Regions from separate parts of the Homo sapiens genome. Here region 1 is linked to region 2. Evidence: fine-mapped expression QTL. Tissue or cell type: hypothalamus. Region 2 holds a variant in brackets; the other region holds the start of a gene. All regions are shown on one strand. Distances are between the middles of the regions.

Evidence for each region. PIP is the estimated chance that this variant, and not a neighbour inherited with it, causes the effect. A credible set is the group of variants that fine-mapping cannot tell apart.
Region 1: SPATA22 starts here. The variant in region 2 is the best candidate, but not a certain one, in a credible set for the expression of SPATA22 in hypothalamus (GTEx, PIP 0.68).

What each region holds. Positions count from the first base shown.
Region 1 is chr17:3,468,657-3,475,701 of GRCh38, reverse strand. It overlaps SPATA22 (spermatogenesis associated 22), which reads left to right and starts at 3,883. Exons shown (of 9, transcript NM_001170698.2): 1 at 3,883-4,020; 2 at 6,304-6,419. The coding sequence starts at 6,377. It also overlaps a transcript of ASPA not described here.
Region 2 is chr17:3,534,298-3,544,980 of GRCh38, reverse strand. TRPV3 (transient receptor potential cation channel subfamily V member 3) reads left to right here. Exons shown (of 18, transcript NM_145068.4): 4 at 316-402; 5 at 1,353-1,507; 6 at 2,283-2,459; 7 at 9,268-9,408. Among named protein-coding and RNA genes, the nearest start is that of TRPV3, 18 kb to the left of the region's middle. RefSeq lists a silencer at 9,183-9,232. The variant A/G (reference allele first, on the strand shown) is at 5,486.

The DNA.
Region 1 (7,045 bases), 67 kb after region 2:
GGCATTTCAAAACATTTCTTCTCTGAAATGAGTTCAAGCACTTTTCATGATCTGAGGGCATTTGAATCTCACCTCTATAAACAGCCAAAGGCTGACCCTCAGAGACCTCCTCTTGAACCGGCGCCCATTCTTTCAGAATGCTTTTTCACAATCAGAAACAGAAGGGCCAAATCAATGATCACTTGGGACTCGAAAAGCTACCCTGAAACATCCCTTCATTTCTTTCTCATGAGGTTTTTGGTAATTCTGTGTTAACTTACTTATGAATCTTCCTCATTTTTTGCCTAAATACCAAAGGAAAGACAACTGTTAGTACTTTTCAAGTTTTTGTGATGCCTGAAAATGTCTTGGGACACACTGCATGTGCTAACCACATCATGTGAACTTACATAGACACAGCCTTATTCACTGTCAGCGGGGACTCTCCACTGGACTGTGTTACTCAAAAAGGGGTCTTATTAGGGGAAATTTTCCAGAATACTAAGATGATTACATCCCTTTGGAGAAATGACTCTGAGCCAAATCTGATTTGATTTCATGCTCAGTCACCCAGAAAGTCACATATGTTCAAGTACTGGGAATACCATGTACTAGTAACGCCAGGTTGTTTGATAGAGGGTACAATAAGAGTAATTTATTACAATTGCAGAGTTTAATTTATAATGTCCTTTCACTCAGTTTATTCATACATTAATTTTATACGATAGGGTGGGTTAGGTGTTGACATCCCCACTGCAGGGGTAAACGAAAGAGAGGTTAAGTAACTCAGTTAAGGTTCTGCAGGGATGTAGGAGAACCTAGGCCTGAGACCCATGTTTCTCATCCCAAGTCTAGTGTTTTTCACAGGACAATAGGGTGCCTCTCTGTTATTTTTGGTCTTCTTCACAGTTCTAGTTTTGCTCTTTCAGAATTCACATAAACAGCCATTACAGTGTGCTCAGGAAACAAACATGCATACAAACCAAATACATGGTGGAAAAATAAAATATGAATGCTTCCTAATATTTAATAAACCCACTGAATGTTCTTCCTTTAAGAGCTTATAATGCAGAGATAGAGAAAGCAAAATAACCACATCAAATCTATGCATTAAAATGACTGTTCTAATAGAAAAAAAAAGCTCCTGTAGGCTTTGACTGTCTGTCCACATCCATGTACACTGAACACTTCAGACGGTGTAGAGATGATGAAAACACACGTAAAAGTAAACAGATGACAGTTGTTTAGTTGCTTTGGTTTTAAGAGCAGTAACCATGGTGAATTATTAACACTCTACTATGCTTGGTTTCTTTTCTGCTGATTTGTAGTTTGTTCTGTCCTTTGCCCTAGTCTCTCTGGAAATGCTGCTTCAGTTATTTACTCGTAGCTGGCACAAATGACTTGCATTTTGAAGCTTGTTTTATGGAATTTTAACAGATCAGCACTTTGAAGCACATTTCACATTCATAAATAAAGTTTCTCTTACATGTCAAAATGAATAACTTTTTTGAGAGTTAATGAATTGCAGCAATTATTTCCCATACTTACCTTGTTTTTTGTGTACAGAGTTTGTCTTCTGTGGAAAGCTTTATTAGGAAAAAGGAGAGCATTTCCTCAGAAGTAGAGCAACAGAGGCTTTTCATACTCTTATACCAAGTTAACTTCCGAAAGATTTTTAACTCCCTGTTTCCCAAAGTGTACTTGATTTTTGGGATGACCCAAAAAACCACACTTTTTTATTAGTTCTCAGCGAACTGATAGTATACGAAGTGAAACCCTTTCGAATTGTCACTATCTCATTATTAAGTTGAATATATAATATTCTGAAGTACTTAAAAGAGTAAGCATAACTTCCAGCATTACAAATGTTTTGTGGGATAGAGTTGCCTGATGTATTAATAAAATAATGTAGTTTAAAACAAAAGGATGCCAGGTGTGGTCTCATGCTTGTAATCCCAGCACTTTGGGAGGCCGAGGTGGGCGGATCACCTAAGGTCAGGAGTTCGAGACCATCCTGGCCAACATGGTGAAACCCCGTCTCTACTAAAAATACAAAATTACCTGGGCGTGGTGGCGGGTGCCTGTAATCCTAGTTACTCAGGAGGCTGAGGCAGGAGAATCACTTGAACCTAGAAGGCGGAGGTTGCAGTGAGCTGAGATTGTGCCATTGCACTCCAACCTGGGGAACAAGAGCGAAACTCCGTCTCAAAAACAAAACAAAACAAAACAAAAGGAGAGCAGAGTTTTACTTCACAGTCATGGCTGTCCAGTAGATCCCTGCCAGAAATTTTGTAGGAGACAAATTTAAGGTGGGTTGTTTCCCAAATGGTATGACTGGGGGATAAGAAGGGTTTTTTGTTAAATATTATACATAAGATGTCTCATACATAATGTGATGTTCAGTAGTTATGTAATCAAACTACTTTTACTACTTTAGTTTTCTCCTTCCCTGTGATCCATCCTGACCAACTTTCCAGGTGGAAATAAATAAGCAGAAAAAGACAAGTATAAAACAGATTAAGTTTATAAACTGCTAGCAAATATTCTATATTGCTCATGTCTGCAGTCCCTACAGAAGTAATCGGCTTAAGGTGGTTTTTTTTTTTTTTTTTTAATGAAAAATCTATTTTTGGGGTGGGTGGGTGTGTGTTGTAAATGTATGCACATCCGTATGTAGATATCAAGTCAAAATCTGCTTCCCTGAAGCTTCTATTCATGTTTTGGGTAACTCCTCTCTGGAACCATGATAAATAACAAGTTTTATTTTTATTGTTCAAGTCTTCTTCTTCCCAAAATAAAAGATGGCCCTATTCCTTGAAAGCTGTTCCTTACTCTGGCATTCAAGGTCTGCTATTATCTGGTCTCAGTCTACATCTAATATTATTTTCTAACACTCTTCTTTACTTGAGATAGTTTTAAAGCAACTACTAAAATGTCTGTGGTCTTATAGGCCTAGGCCTTTACTAACAATCTTCCTTTCATCTCTAAGCCCTTCCCTATCCCAGTCTTCAAATGGTTAGAAGATACGGTAACAACAAAACATGGGCTTTGAACTCAGACAGCTCTAGAATCCACTACCTGGCCCATAGTAAGTTCCGGATAAATGGCAGCTACTGTTACTCAAATTAAATAAGGGCTAACAGTTACTGGGCATTTACTGTGTGCCAGGATTGTCTATTTCATCTTCTAGTATTTTTAGGGCGATTGTTGTTATTGTTCTTTTACTGGTAGGTCCAGAGGGTGTTCAGTAAGTAACTTGCCCAAGGTCACAGGGCCAGGAATCCACAGTCCTCTTTGCCAGGAAGCCTGGAGCTCAACGCCCAGGGTCGCACACCACGCGGCTTCCCCTGCAGAGCGTCTCTGCGGCTCACGGGCGCTTCCCTCCCGCAAGCTCCCGCAGCCCCGGCGCTGCCTCGCTGACGGCTCTCCGCCTTCCATGGCCGCCATCTGAACCTGGGCTTCAGCTCTGTCCCCAGCCTCCCGGGGACTCAGATTCCCTGACCCTGATCCGACCCAGAAATTGAGCCAGACACCTCGGGTGGCCTTCGAGTCAATCTCTGGGCACACTCTGGGTGGCCACCAGCATCTAACAAACGGATGTCTGGACCCTAAGGGCCAGGGGGTGAGGGGAAGTGGGGCACACTTTTTAGACGATGGTGGGGCTGAGGCCGGTTGGGCAGGAGATCTGCCTCTGTCTCTCCAGTCACAGGACAGTCTCCTTTCCTCTCTGGGCAAAACTCTAAGGAGCTGGAGCCATCCCTGGGTCCACAGTGTGAGAACGCCAAGGAAGAGCGTTAACGTCATCGCGCCCGGCCAAGGGCGGCCAGGCAGGCAGCGAAGATGCCATCGCGCCGAGGTGGCGGCCACTGCGCCTGCGCGGTCCACGGCGCCTGCGAACAGCCTGATTCCCGCGCTTTCTTCGCGGGCGGGAAGGGCGGCGGTTGCTGACGGGGCCGCCTGGACGACGGTTGACGGAGGCGAGGGAAACTGAGGGCGAAAGTTGTGTGTCGTGTTGGCAGGAGGGCCTAGAAGGGAAAGACTGTGCGTTGATACCAAACTGCCCCCACTCCGTGGGCGGGTCAGGAGAGGCCTTTGGAAGAGCGTCTCAACTCGGACTGGAGCCTCTTCTCTCCCACCGCGGTCAGGAGCCAAAACAGGCCGCCATTTGAGGCCGTGGTTTTTGTGGGTGGTGTGTGTGTGTGTGCGTGCAGATTGAGCACACTTTTTGCACACCAATGCCACCAACCCCATTACTAACGCCACTTAGGTCCATTTGGGAGCTGGGATTGGGGGTAAATGAGGGTCCCCGCCCTCAGGATCAATGGTCCCGCGGGTGGAATGTTACACTTAAAAATTTTGTTGTTGTTTATTCTGTTTGTTTGATCCTGAGAAACATAATAGCCCTCGTAAGCCCCTCTAAATATAGGATGTGAGTTGCGCCGGTGGAGAAAGTGGCAGAATCCCTGTTGTGGCTCCTAGGATGGCGCCAAGAATATTTTCCTTTCCTTTCCTTTCCCTTCCTTCCTTCCTTCCCTTCCCTCCCTCCCTTCCTCCCTCTCTCCATTTTTTCCCTAGAGTCTCGCTCTGTCGCCCAGGCTGGAGTGCAGTGGCGTGATCTCGGCTCACTGCAACCTCCGCCTCCCGGGTTCAAGTGATTCTCCTGTCTCAGCCTCCAGGGTAGCTGGGATTACAGGCACGCACCACCATGCCCGGCTAATTTTTGTATTTTTAGTAGAGACGGGGTTTCACGTTGTTGGTCAGGCTGGTCTTGAACTCCCGACCTCAGGTGACCCACTTGCCTTGGCCTCCCGAAGTGCTGGGATCACAGGCATGAGCCACTGCACCTGGCCACCAGGAATATTTTCTAAAGGGTCCATCTCTTCTACCCAGCTTCAAGCCTAAGATGTGGAAACAAAACAGAGGCAGCACCTGACCTCGTGTTTCCCAAGTTGTTTTTTTTTCTTTTTTTTTTGAGACGGAGTCTCGCTCTGTCGCCCAGGCTGGAGTGCAGCGGCACGATCTCCGCTCACTGCAACCTCCGCCTCCCGAGTTCATGCCATTCTCCTGCCTCAGCCTCACGAGTAGCTGGGACCACAGGTGCCTGCCACCACGCCCGGCTAATTTTTTTGTATTTTTTAGTAGAGACGGGGTTTCCCTCTGTTAGCCAGGATGGTCTTGATCTCCTGATCTCGTGATCCGCCCGTCTCGGCCTCCCAAAGTGCTGGGATTACAGGCGTGAGCCACTGCACCCGGCCTGTTTCCCAAGTTTTATTTTTACAAACGATATTTGAAAGTTAACACCTCGGCCTGACTTGCATTATTGCTTAGTTGTGTATGTGTCGGTCTGTCTGTCTCATTGGGTTGTGAATTTGGAACAGAAGTTACCTGGTTTGGGTTTGTATCTTGCCTCTTCTTGCAGTGGGCAAGTGTTCGTTGTATTAGATTGGGGATGAAATGTGTTAAGGGGCTAAACGTGCAAAATTACAAGAGAAATTCTATTGTAAAAGAAGAAAACTAAGGAAAAACTTGTTTCACTTGTTGAAGTTGTGGAAATGGAGTGGAAACTTGTCATTACAATTATTCTAGATATGAAGGGAGGACTTAGTCTTTTTTTTTTTTTTTTTTTTTTGAGATGGAGTCTGGGTCTTGTTGCCCAGGCTGGAGTGCAGTGGCACGATCTCAGCTCACTGCAACCTCGGCCTCTCGGGCTCAAGCGATTCTCCTGCCTCGGCCTCCCGAGTAGCTGGGATTACAGGCGCCCGCCACCACTCCTGGCTAATTTTGTATTTTTAGTAGAGATGGGCTTTTGCCATGTTGGCCAGGCTGGTCTTGAACTCCTGACCTCAGGAAGACTTAGTCTTTGATATTATATAATCCAGGCATTTCAAACTGATGCAAAGGCAGATGTCCTGCACAATGCCTTAAAGTGGGGCATGGAGGAAGTTCCCGGTGGCTAAATACTGTGTTTCCTCCTTGGCCTTGGAAGCATGTACGTTTGCCAACGCTGTGGTCCATTTTCCTCTTTGTAGGTGTGGTTCAGAATTCTCTTTGTGGGTGCGGGATTCTGAAATAAATTACATATACTGTGTGAAAAAATGCACATATGTTTACGAAGCAAGGTTACAGTTGCCCTAGTCATAACTTAATTTGAACAGGGTTGGAAAAGTGGATTATGGTGTAAACTCTTAGAAAGCAAAGGACTCCCTAAAGTGTTTACGTGATCAGGTTTGAAAGTAGTTTACAACCATAATTTCAGTAATCACTGGGCTGAGGATTGGGTTTTATAGTTGAGACAATACGAGTTATAAGTTTCTTTCTTTGCAGGTCTAGTGGGACAATGTCATATTATAAATTTGGAATGCTGAATAGAAAATTATAGATTTTGATATTGAAGGAAATGAAGCGAAGCCTAAATGAAAATTCAGCTCGAAGTACAGCAGGTATTGAACAACTTTTTATTTTTAAATTTTCTGTATAGCATATAAAGCTTGTATAGTTTATAGATATAACATTGGAAATAAATTTAAAATAGATTGAACAGTTAATCTAGCCTCTTTACTTTTTAGGTCCAAGGAAGTAAAATAACTTACTCAAGACAAAACATTTAGTGGTAGAGGTGGGAGTAAGATCAAAGTTTCTTAGATTTATTTTGATATTCTTTCTACAAATTCGATGTGCTTGAGTTATTCTATGCTTTAAAACTGAAAACAAAGAAATAGATCTATTTTTGTTTGTATTTGTGACTTACTTGTTAAAAATATTTCCGGAAGCACTTCTGTCTTTCTAATAGCTTCTCCTATCATTTTTGCTTTCCCAATTTATTAGTATAAAGACAGATGGCAAGGATGATGAGAACCAGGGGAATGATGATGCATAATGAAGATAATAGTAACTATTATTTATGGTGGATTAACTGTATTCAAGACATTAATTATATATATTAATTTATTTAATCTTTACACCAATACCCTGAGATAGGTTATTATAATCATTTCTGTTGTTCAGATGAGAAAAACAAGGCTAAAAGAGGTTAAATAAGTAATCCATGAAGTAGCAGAATCAGAAT
Region 2 (10,683 bases):
GTGCAGTGGCCCAATCTCAGCTCACTGCAGCCTCCACCTCCCAGGTTTAAGCGATTCTCCTGCCTCAGCCTCCCAAGTAGCTGGGATTACAGGCACATGCCACCACGCCTGGCTAGTTGTTGTATTTTTAGTAGAGACAATTTAGTAGAGACAGTTTAGTTTCACCATGTTGGCCAGGCTGGTCTCGAACTCCTGACCTCAAGTGATCCACCTGCCTCGGCCTCCCAAAGTGCTGGGATTACATGCATGAGCCACCTCACCCGGCCCATTTTAAAACTTTAAAACCCTCTCTGTTCCCCCTGCCAACACCTCCAGCATCTCTGGTAACTGTGATGACATGGACTCCCCCCAGTCTCCTCAGGATGATGTGACAGAGACCCCATCCAATCCCAACAGCCCCAGGTAAGTCTGCCCCTCCCCCTCCACCCACTGTGCCCACCCAGGCTGGGGGTGCCAGAGAGACAGGATCCGGGGCCCTGCAGGAAGGAGAAAGAATCCACCATTCCTGGGGATTGGGACAAGTGGAGTCATGGGTCCATGGCATGTAGGACGTTTACGGGGAAGGAGTGGAGTATTGAATTCTATAAAACCCATTTGTTATGAAACATTCAAACAGCAGGATGCAGTGGAAAAAGAACTGTAGCACGACACCATTTATGTGAACTAAAAATACATAGCCAGGTGCAGGGCTCATACCTGTCATCCCAGCACTTTGGGAGGCTGCGGCAGGAGGATCACGAGGTCAGGAGTTCAAGACAAGCCTGACCAACATGGTGAAACCCCGTCTCTACTAAAAATACAAAACTTAGCCGGGCGTGGTGGCGCATGCCTGTAATCCCAGCTACTGAGGAGGCTGAGGCAGGAGAATTGCTTGCACCCTGGAGGTGGAGGTTGTAGTGAGCTGAGATTGTGTCACTGTACTCCAGCCTGGGTGACAGAGCAAGACTCTGTCTCAAATAAAAAAAAGAAAAAAGAAACAAAAGGAGACATCAACGCGTTACCATGGTTGCTTATCTGGAGTGGGAGGACAGGGAAGGATAGATTTTAAAAGTTCAAACAACATAAAATATGAAATCTTATATTTTCAAGGTAATGTCTTTAATAGGCATAGATCCTTCCTGATCATTACTTCATGCATCCAAATGTAGGTATTTTGACAAAATGTGATTGCATATGGATTACAAGGGGAGCCTGATGGGTCCACACAGAGCCCAGGAGTTTGCAGGCATTGTGACAGGCATGGGAGATGTTGGCGGCAGCTGCAGCGCCCCGTAGGCAGCTCTGGCGGGGAAAAGGAGAGATTGAGCTTGAGAGGATGTGTGTGTTGAGTTGGAAACATTTTCTGGCTTCAGTGCACAGCTGGCCAAGGAAGAGCAGAGGAGGAAAAAGAGGCGGCTGAAGAAGCGCATCTTTGCAGCCGTGTCTGAGGGCTGCGTGGAGGAGTTGGTAGAGTTGCTGGTGGAGCTGCAGGAGCTTTGCAGGCGGCGCCATGATGAGGATGTGCCTGGTGAGTGTCTGAGCCTGGCAGAGGGTGCAGGGCTGGGGGCCCTGCTTGGCTTCTGGTGCCCATTTTCCCCTCCCCTCACCAACCCATGAGGCTGGAGTGTGAGGGGCCTTGAATTCTGGCTAGGGACTTTGAACTTGACTCCGAGGAGAATGGGGAACCACAGAAGGGTTTGGGCAGGTGAGAGTCGGGTCTGACTACTGTGTGGAAGATGGGGGTGAAGCTGGAGAAGGCCACTGTTCAGGCAGGGCTGGGACCCTGAAGCAGGGCTTGAGAAGGGAACGGTTCTGAGCAGCTCCTCGGCCAGTAGCATTGGCAGGATTTGAGGACCTGGGGAGTGAGGGACGGGGGGTCCAGCATGGTGCCATTTAGACTTGGGTAGCTTGGTGGCTGGTGGAGCCCTGGGTGTCTCGGGGACCAGTGCAGTATCAGGTTGATGGGGAGGCCATGAGCTTTATTTGCAGGCCACGAGGAGGGGGCAGGCTGGAGACAGATTCCAGGGTGGCAGCAGGGGGGTGGACAGCGGGAAGCCATACAGTGGGCAAAGAGCAAAAGGCCTCAGATACGTCACCCATGGGCCACAGAGAGCAAGGAGCCAGCATAGGAGACGGAGGAGAAACAGCTGGAGAGGGAGGAGAGCGGCCAAGTGTAAGGTCTGGGAGTGGAGATGTGGAGCAGGGGCTTGGGGTCTGCGGCTGCAGCAACCACACCCTCTGGGCTGGGAGGGCCAAGGGCAGCCGGGGCCCTCCTGTAACTCCACCCATGGCCCTGCCTGCAGACTTCCTCATGCACAAGCTGACGGCCTCCGACACGGGGAAGACCTGCCTGATGAAGGCCTTGTTAAACATCAACCCCAACACCAAGGAGATAGTGCGGATCCTGCTTGCCTTTGCTGAAGAGAACGACATCCTGGGCAGGTTCATCAACGCCGAGTACACAGAGGAGGCCTATGAAGGTATCCTGCCTGCAGAGGGGCTGTGCAGACAGGAGTCTCTGAGGGTGGGGTATGGGGCCACAGGGCCACTGCTGGCCAGGCCACGTGGAGGCACTGCTGCCATTGAGGAGCCCCAAGCATGTAGCATGGTACCAGGGATGCTTCAGGCAACCCTCTCTTTCTTCCTTCATTCTGCAAATAATTTTGAGCACTGGTTCCATGCCAGGCATTGTTTTTGGCATGGGCATGCACTGGTGAACAAGACAGGTTAAAGCCACTGCTCTAAGGCCGGGCGTGGTGGCTCACGCCTGGAATCCCAGCACTTTGGGAGGCTGAGGCGGGTGGATCACCTGAGGTCCGGAGTTCAAGACCAGCCTGACCAACATGGTGAAACCCCGTCTCTACTAAAAATACAAAAATCAGCCGGGCATGGTGGCAGGTGCCTGTAATCCCAGCTACTTGGGAGGCTGAGGCAGGAGAATCACCTGAACCCAGGAGGCGGAGGTTGCAGTGAGCCGAGATCGCCATTGCACTCCAGCCTAGTGACAGAGCGGGACTCCATCTCAAAATAAATAAATAAGTAAAGACAGAAAGAAAAAGAAACAAAGAAAAGAAAGAAAGTCACTGCTCTAAATAAGATAATTTTAGATTTAAAATATTACGAAAATAAATGAAGATAGTGTGACAGAAAGTGACTGGGGGAGGGCAACTTTAGAGTGGACAGTCAGAGTGGTCATCTTTGGCCTGAGGCCGACATGATGAGAAGGATCAGGGCGAAAGCCCCAAGATGGGATTGAGCTTGGCATGGTTGAGCAATGAAAAGAAGGCTGGAAGTGAGGCAAGAGAGCCGGGCAGGGGCCACCAAAAGTCGACTGTTGTCATCATCATCATCATCATTAACTGTCCCCATTTGGGTCTCAGTTTTGTGGATTTCTTTGTAAGTGGGCCAGAGAGGATGCTGGGAGAGCAAATTTGGGAGAGTGGCTCCCTCCCAGGAAATCCACAGGGGAAAATCAGTAAGATGTGTCTTTATTTGAGTTTTGGAGTCAGTCAACAGCGCTTTACGGTCTTATGAGGTGCTCGTGGCAAAAGCGATTGACTCAATTATAATTGGATGCCGTCTTGCTGATATGCTGGGGGCACTAGATGTTTGAGCTTTTTTGTTTTTGTTTTTTGACATGGAGTCTCGCTCTGTTGCCTAGGCTGGAGTGCAGTGGCGCGATCTTGGCTCACTGCAACCTCTGCCTCCCAGGTTCAAGCGATTCTCCTGCCTCAGCCTCCCAAGTAACTGGGATTACAGGCACCTGCCACCATGCCTGGCTAATTTTTTTGGATTTTTAGTAGAGACGGGGTTTCACCATTTTGGCCAGGCTGGTCTCAAACTCCCAACCTCAGGTGATCCACCTGCCTTCACCTCCCAAAGTGCTGGGATTCCAGGCGTGAGCCACCACGCCCTGCCACAATTTAGGTTTTTCCAGGTGGGAGTTTAGCTTTGGCCTTTAACCCTTCTCATGGGAGAAAGTAATTGTGATTTATTATTTGAACTCTGCAGACTTTCAAAAGCATTTTTGTTATATATAAGAAGAAGTCAAGGATTGTGACAAACTAGAAGATATGGAGTGGAGGAGAGGAAACCTAGGGAAGACTGTTGCAACTGAGTGCTAAACTGCTCACTGAGCTCCCTGGTAGCCAATGCAAAGAGAGAAACTGGATGAACCATATCACATTCTCAGCCTGTCTCTAAGGAGTTGACAGTAGTCCTGCAGACAGGGAGGTTCAGGCCAGTGCCTCAAGCTTGCTTGTCCTAATTTTCCCTTTTCAGTCCCCTTTGTATCCTCCTTTCTTCTTGTCAGTATTGTAGGACTTACGAACTACCCTTTGCTAGCAACATGTTTCCCTTGAGGGCAGGGATGAAGTCTGTTGCTTACAGTTCATTTCCCAGTACCCTTAGGGTCTCACCTAAGAGACGCTTAGTACATATTTTTTGGATGAGTGAATGAAAGAAGGTTGTTAGTGTTTCTGTGAAGACTTTGCTGTCCCGGTCACAGATCCTTACCTCTCCCTGTTCTTAGCCTCCCCTTTCCCTCTCCTTTCATGAATCTGCCTCTTGCTGGGGCGAGGAGGTCTGGGAGGCTGTGGGCACCTCCTCTTTCTCTGAATGGTGGGAGGAGCTATTTATTCTTGTCTTCCTGGAAACCAACCCCACCACCGTTCTGACCCATCCGCTGGTGCCTTCCTTCCTCTTAGCATTTCCTCCACCCGGAGCAGAGGGGCTCCAGGACCAGCAGAGTAGCATTCTTCCACACTCTGGGCAGGACCCAAGGTGACCACTCTGATTGTCCACTCTAAAGTTTCCCTTCCCCAGTCACTTTCTGTCACCCTATCTTCATTTATTTTCATAGCATTTTTTTGTATCTAAAATAACCTTATTTAGAGCAATGACTTTGTTTATTTATTTATTTATTTATTTATTTATTTATTTTTTGAGATGGAGTTCCGCTGTGTCACCAGGCTGGAGTGCAGTGGCACAACCTCTGCCTCCCGGGTTCAGGTGATTCTCCTGCCTCAGCATCCCAAGTAGCTGGGACTACAGGCAACTGCCTCACCTCTCTGAGCCTCAGTTTCCCCACTGGGCAAGGGCGAATATTTCCTCCCTATGCTGCTAAGAGGAACCAATCACAACTTTATTCATATCATTTTAAAGCATTTTATCAGAGGCCTTCAGAGTTTTACTTTTTTAAGCAATTCTTCAATTAAGACATTTTTATTATAAAAATTTTAAACATGAAGTTAAGATATTAGAATAATAAACCTCTACACATCCATCATCAGATTCAATATAACAGTTTCTTTTTATTATTTTACTTTATTTTATTTTATTATTGTTTTTGAGACAGGTTCTCACTCTGTTGGGCAGGCTGGAGTGCAGTGGCGCGACCACGACTCGCTGCAGCCTTGACCTCCCTGGGCTCAGGTAATTTTCCCACCTCAGCCTCCCGAGTAGCTGGGACTATAGATGCGTGCCACCCCGCCCAGCTAATTTTTCT[A/G]TTTGTTGCAGGGATAGGGTTTCACCATGTTGCCCAGGCTGGTCTGTAACTCCGGGGCTCAAGCAATCCTCCCGCCTCTGCCTCTCAATGATGGGATTATAGGCGTGAGCCACCGCACCCAGCCTAACAACATCCACGTCACATGAATAGAGTTTCATTGTAAAGCAGCCCAGCATTTTACATACTTTTTTTTTTTTTAAGTCCTTTACCCATATACTTTGTGGAGTTTTCTAGGCCTTTGACATTTGTGTGTGTATATGTGCACACAGAAAAAGTTTTATTTATTTAACATAAAATATTATCATACTGTCTGTATTCTACAAGTTGGTTTTTTTGATTAACTATTAACCATATGTCTTGGAGCACTTCTTATGCCAAAATATGAAAGTCTAGCTTCTTTTCACCAGATTCGTCTGCAATTGCGGCTGCACCTTGGCTAATTTCACCACTCCCCCACTGACAGACAGTCAGGTGTTTCCAGCTGTGTTGTGACAATGTCACAGTGCACGATCTTGTCTATGACCCTGTGCACAGGTGCACATATGTTTCAGAAAATATTTTGAATTGGAATATCTGGGTTCAACCGCATGCATATTTAAAGTTATAATAGTGGCCAGGCGCAGTGGCTCATGCCTGTAATCCCAGCACTTTGGGAGGCCAAGGCAGGTGGATCACTTGAGGTCAGGAGTTCCAGACCAGCCTAGCCAACATGGTGAAAACCCATCTCTACTAAAAATACAAAAACTAGTAGGGCGTGGTGGGGCACGCTTGTAATCCCAGCTACTTGGGAGGCTGGGGCAGGAGGATCACTTGAACCTGGGAGGCGGAGGTTGCAGTGAGCCGAGATCGCGCCACTGCACTCCAGCCTGGGCAACAGAGGGAGACTCCATCTCAAAAAAAAAAATTTTTTTTTAAATAAATAAAATAAAGTTATAATAGTTATTGCCAAATTTGTCTCTAAAAGATACTCATTTACTCTCTCCCCACAACGGTGTACAGAAATACTCATTCTCCTACTTATCACTAACACTGCAAATTATCCTTTTTTTTTTTTTTTTGTTCTTTTCCAGTCTGGTGGGTGAAAAGGGTTAACTCTTTAGGTTCTAATTTTCATTTTCCTGACCACCAGTGATTCCAAACATCTTTCACTTTGTTTATTCACTGTGTGTATTTTCTCCTCTGTGAGGTGCTTGTTTATAATCTTTTCTCAGTTTTCTTTTAGACTGTTTGTCTTTCTATTGATTCATAGGCGCTTGTAATATATTATAGACTTTTAAAAACACAATGCCTTTCTATTTTTTTTTTGAGACGGGGTCTTGCTCTATTGCCCAGGCTGGAGTGCAGTGGCATGCTCACTGCAAGCTCCACCTCCCGGGTTCACACCATTCTCCTGCCTCAGCCTCCCGAGTAGCTGGGACTACAGGCACTCACCATCACGCCCGCCTAATTTTTTGTATTTTTAGTAGAGACAGAGTTTCACCAGGTTAGCCAGGATGGTCTCGATCTCCTGACCTCGTGATCTGCCCGCCTCAGCCTCCCAAAGTGCTGGGATTACAGGTGTGAGCCACCGTGCCTGGCATGCCTTTTTTTTTTTTTTTTTTTTAAAAAGACAGAGTCTTGCTCTCTAGCCCAGGCTGGAGTACAGTGGCGCGATCTCTGCCTCCTGAGTTCAAGTGATTCTCCTGCTTCAACCTCCTGAGTAGCTGGGACTACAGGTGCCCGCCACCACACTTGGCTAATTTTTTTGTATTTTCAGTAGAGATGGGGTTTCTCCATGTGGGCCAGGCTGGTCTCGAACTCCTGACCTCAAGTGATCCACCCGCCTCGGCTTCCCAAAGTGCTGGGATTACAGGTGTGAGCTACCGCGCCCGGCCCTAAAACACATTGCCTTTTTATATATCTCAAATATTTTCCCCAGCCTATCACTTGTCTTTAACTTTCATTAGGATGCATTCGGAAATACAGAAATCTCCGAGGTAGGGGGATTGCTTGAGCCCAGGAATTCAAGACCAGCCTGGGCAACACAGCAAGATCCTGTCTCTACAAAAAATTTTAAAAATAAGCCGGGAGTGGTGGTGCAGGCCTGTAGTCCACACGTGTGTGTGTATATATGTACACAGAAATAGTTTTATTTACTTATCTAACATAAAATAGGACCATCACGTCTGTATTCTACAAGTTGCTTTGTTTGATTAACTGTATGTCTTAGAGCATTTCTTATGCCAAATATGAAAGTCTAGCTTTTGGGGGGCTGAGACAGGAGGATCGTTTGAGCCCAGGAGTTCAAGGTTGCAGTGAGCTATGCTCACGCCACTGCACTCCAGCCTGGGTGACACAGCAAGATCCTATGTCAAACATACAAACAAACAAACAAAAAACCAAAAACCCCCAAAACCAAAAACCTTTATGTAAGCAAATATGTCAGCCTTTTCTTTATGGTTTCTGCCTTTTGGATCCTGCTTAAGAAGGTCTTCCCTACCAAAAGGTTAGCTATAAACAAACTTTCTAATGTGTCTTAAAGCTTGGTTCTTTAATCCACCAAGACTATGTTTGTTTATGACACAGCGGCAGCTCTTTGGAAACTGCTGTTTCTGTTGGTGCATTTCGAGACCCTTCCCCCACTCCAGCCTTCTGGTCCCTTCCATCTGGAAGTTCTCTGGTCTCCAGCAGGCTTAGTGTCTCTCCCGCTACCCTTCTTTCCTCTTGCTGTGTCACCAGCGTATCATTCACCCACCGCCAGGGCTGAATACCTAGATCTTACCTGAGACACCCTTCTTCCCAGCCGGGCATCCTGAAGGCTCTTTCTCCAGAGGGTCTTTGGGCTTCCTCCTTTCTCCACCCTTCATGTGCCCTCCAACTCCCCTTAGTCCAGGCCTCATCATTTTTTTGTTTGTTTGTTTGTTTTTTGAGATGGAGTTTCACTCTTCTTGCCCAGGCTGGAGTGCAATGGACCAATCTCGGCTCACTGCAACCTCTGCCTCCTGGGTTCAAGCGATTCTCCTGCCTCAGCCTCCCAAGTAGCTGGGATTACAGGCATGCGCCCCCACGGCCGGCTAATTTTGTATTTTTAGTACAGACCATGTTTCACCATGTTGGTCAGGCTGCTCTCGAACTCCTGACCTCAGGTGATCCACCTGCTTTGGCCTCCCAGTGTGCTGGGATTACAGGCCTCATCATTTCCTTCACTGGTCTCGGCTGCTTCTAACGCATCCTCCACTTTTGCAGCCAGAGAGGTCTGAAAACACCCATGCACCGAGCCCTACATTCTCGTCCTGCCAGTTTCCTAATTCAAGGCCGTCTGTGACTCTGGCCCTTAGCACAAGCTCTGCCCTCTTGCCCTGGCTGATGAGCTGGCCCCACACCGCCTCGCTAAACTTCTGAGGTCCCAGGTTAGAGAGCTCTGGGAAGCCCCCTGACGCTCTCTGGCTGTGAAGGGCCCTTGCTCTGGGTACCGCAGCTCCTGCACCCCTCTGAATCGTAGCACCTCGTTCTCAGTGACACTGCGGGCTTCTTGAGGAAAATAATCGAGATTGCGTCTTGGGCACCCACTGACCCCCAGCGCCTGGGGCCGGAGCCCGGAGCAGGCGCTCCACAAACATTTCTTGGGTCCGCGCAGGCATGAAGGAAGCAAAGAACAAAGCTGGGATTCCTGGTAGCTGGCGACACAGACCAGGGTTCTGATCTCCCCGTGGGTTCGGGGAGGGTATGGAGGCCAGAGCGGGTGGGCAAGAGGCCCCTGTGCCCGGCGCTGAGGCTCCCGCGCGTCCCCGCCCGCTCCGCAGGGCAGACGGCGCTGAACATCGCCATCGAGCGGCGGCAGGGGGACATCGCAGCCCTGCTCATCGCCGCCGGCGCCGACGTCAACGCGCACGCCAAGGGGGCCTTCTTCAACCCCAAGTACCAACACGAAGGCTTCTACTTCGGTGGGTGCCGCCCCCGCCCGGTGCGGAGTCTGGGAGGAGGGAGGAGGGAGACGGGAGAGGAAGGGAGGGAAGGGGAAGGAGGGAAGAAGGGAGGAGGGGGGAAGAAAGAGGGAAGGAGGAAGGAAGTGAGGAGGGAGAGGGAGGAAGGGAGGGGGAAACAGGAAGGAGAGAGGAGGGAGAGGGAGGAGGGAGGAAGGAAGCAGGAAGGATGAGGGAGGAAGGAAGGGAGGAGGGAGAGGAAGGAAGGGAGGAGGGAGAAAGGAAGAGGGAAGCAGGAAGGAGGGAGGAAGGGAGGAGGGAGGAGGGAGAGGGAGGAGGAGTAAGGAGGGGGAGGGAGGGAGGAGGGAGGCAGGAGACAGAAGGGAGAAGGAGGAGGGAGAGGGAGGAAGGGAGGAGGAAGGAGGGCGGAGGGAGAGAAAGGAAGGAAGGAGGGAGGAAGGGAGGGGCCACCCCGCTTTGAGCTCCACCCACACTGTCCCTGCCTTAAGAAGCTCTGGTGCCCCAGAGGGGCAGGAGGGGAGGAGGCTGGGCATGTCCATCTGAGCAGGACACCAGGGTGGACCAGAGAAGGAGGGGCTGGGAGGAGGTGTTGGGGGAGGAGTCCATGTTCCGGTGGTGTCACCTGGTGGTCTTAGAAGCATTGTCCTGGGTAGCTCTCTGAGGGAACAGAGACCTGGGAGGGAGGCTGAGGAGGCAGCCCCATTTTACAGGCGAGGAGATGGCTCTGTGAAGGGAAAGGACTTGCCCCAGGGTAGCAGGGCATTGACTTAGGTGTCCTGGCCTCCAGCTCTGACCTCTGTGCCAGGGCCCAGTGCATCTCAGGACTGCAGACAGGGAGTCGAGAGTGAGAGGGCAGAACTCCCCTGCCTCACAAGTCACAGAGTCCAGAAGCAATTGGGGTTAGGATGCTCTAGGAAAAAAAAAAAAAATTGAAATGCATAATTTAGATATAGTGAAAGTCACCCGTGTTAGAGGACAGTTCTGTTCATTTTCACAGTGCGTCGAGTTGGTTCACCACCACTGCAGTCAGAACAGGGAACAAATGGCTCCGTCACACACAAAAATTTCTCTGTGTAACTTTGTTGCAGAGGAGACCCCTCCTGCCACCCAGTCTTGCCTGACTGATGATCACCCATCTGTTTTCTCTTCTGGGTGTTATTTTTTTTATTTTTATTTTTTTAATGGAGTCTCACTCTGTTGCCCAGGCTGCTGGAGTGCAGTGGTGCCATCTGGCTCACTGCAGCCTCTGCCTCCTGGGTTCAAGCGATTCTCATG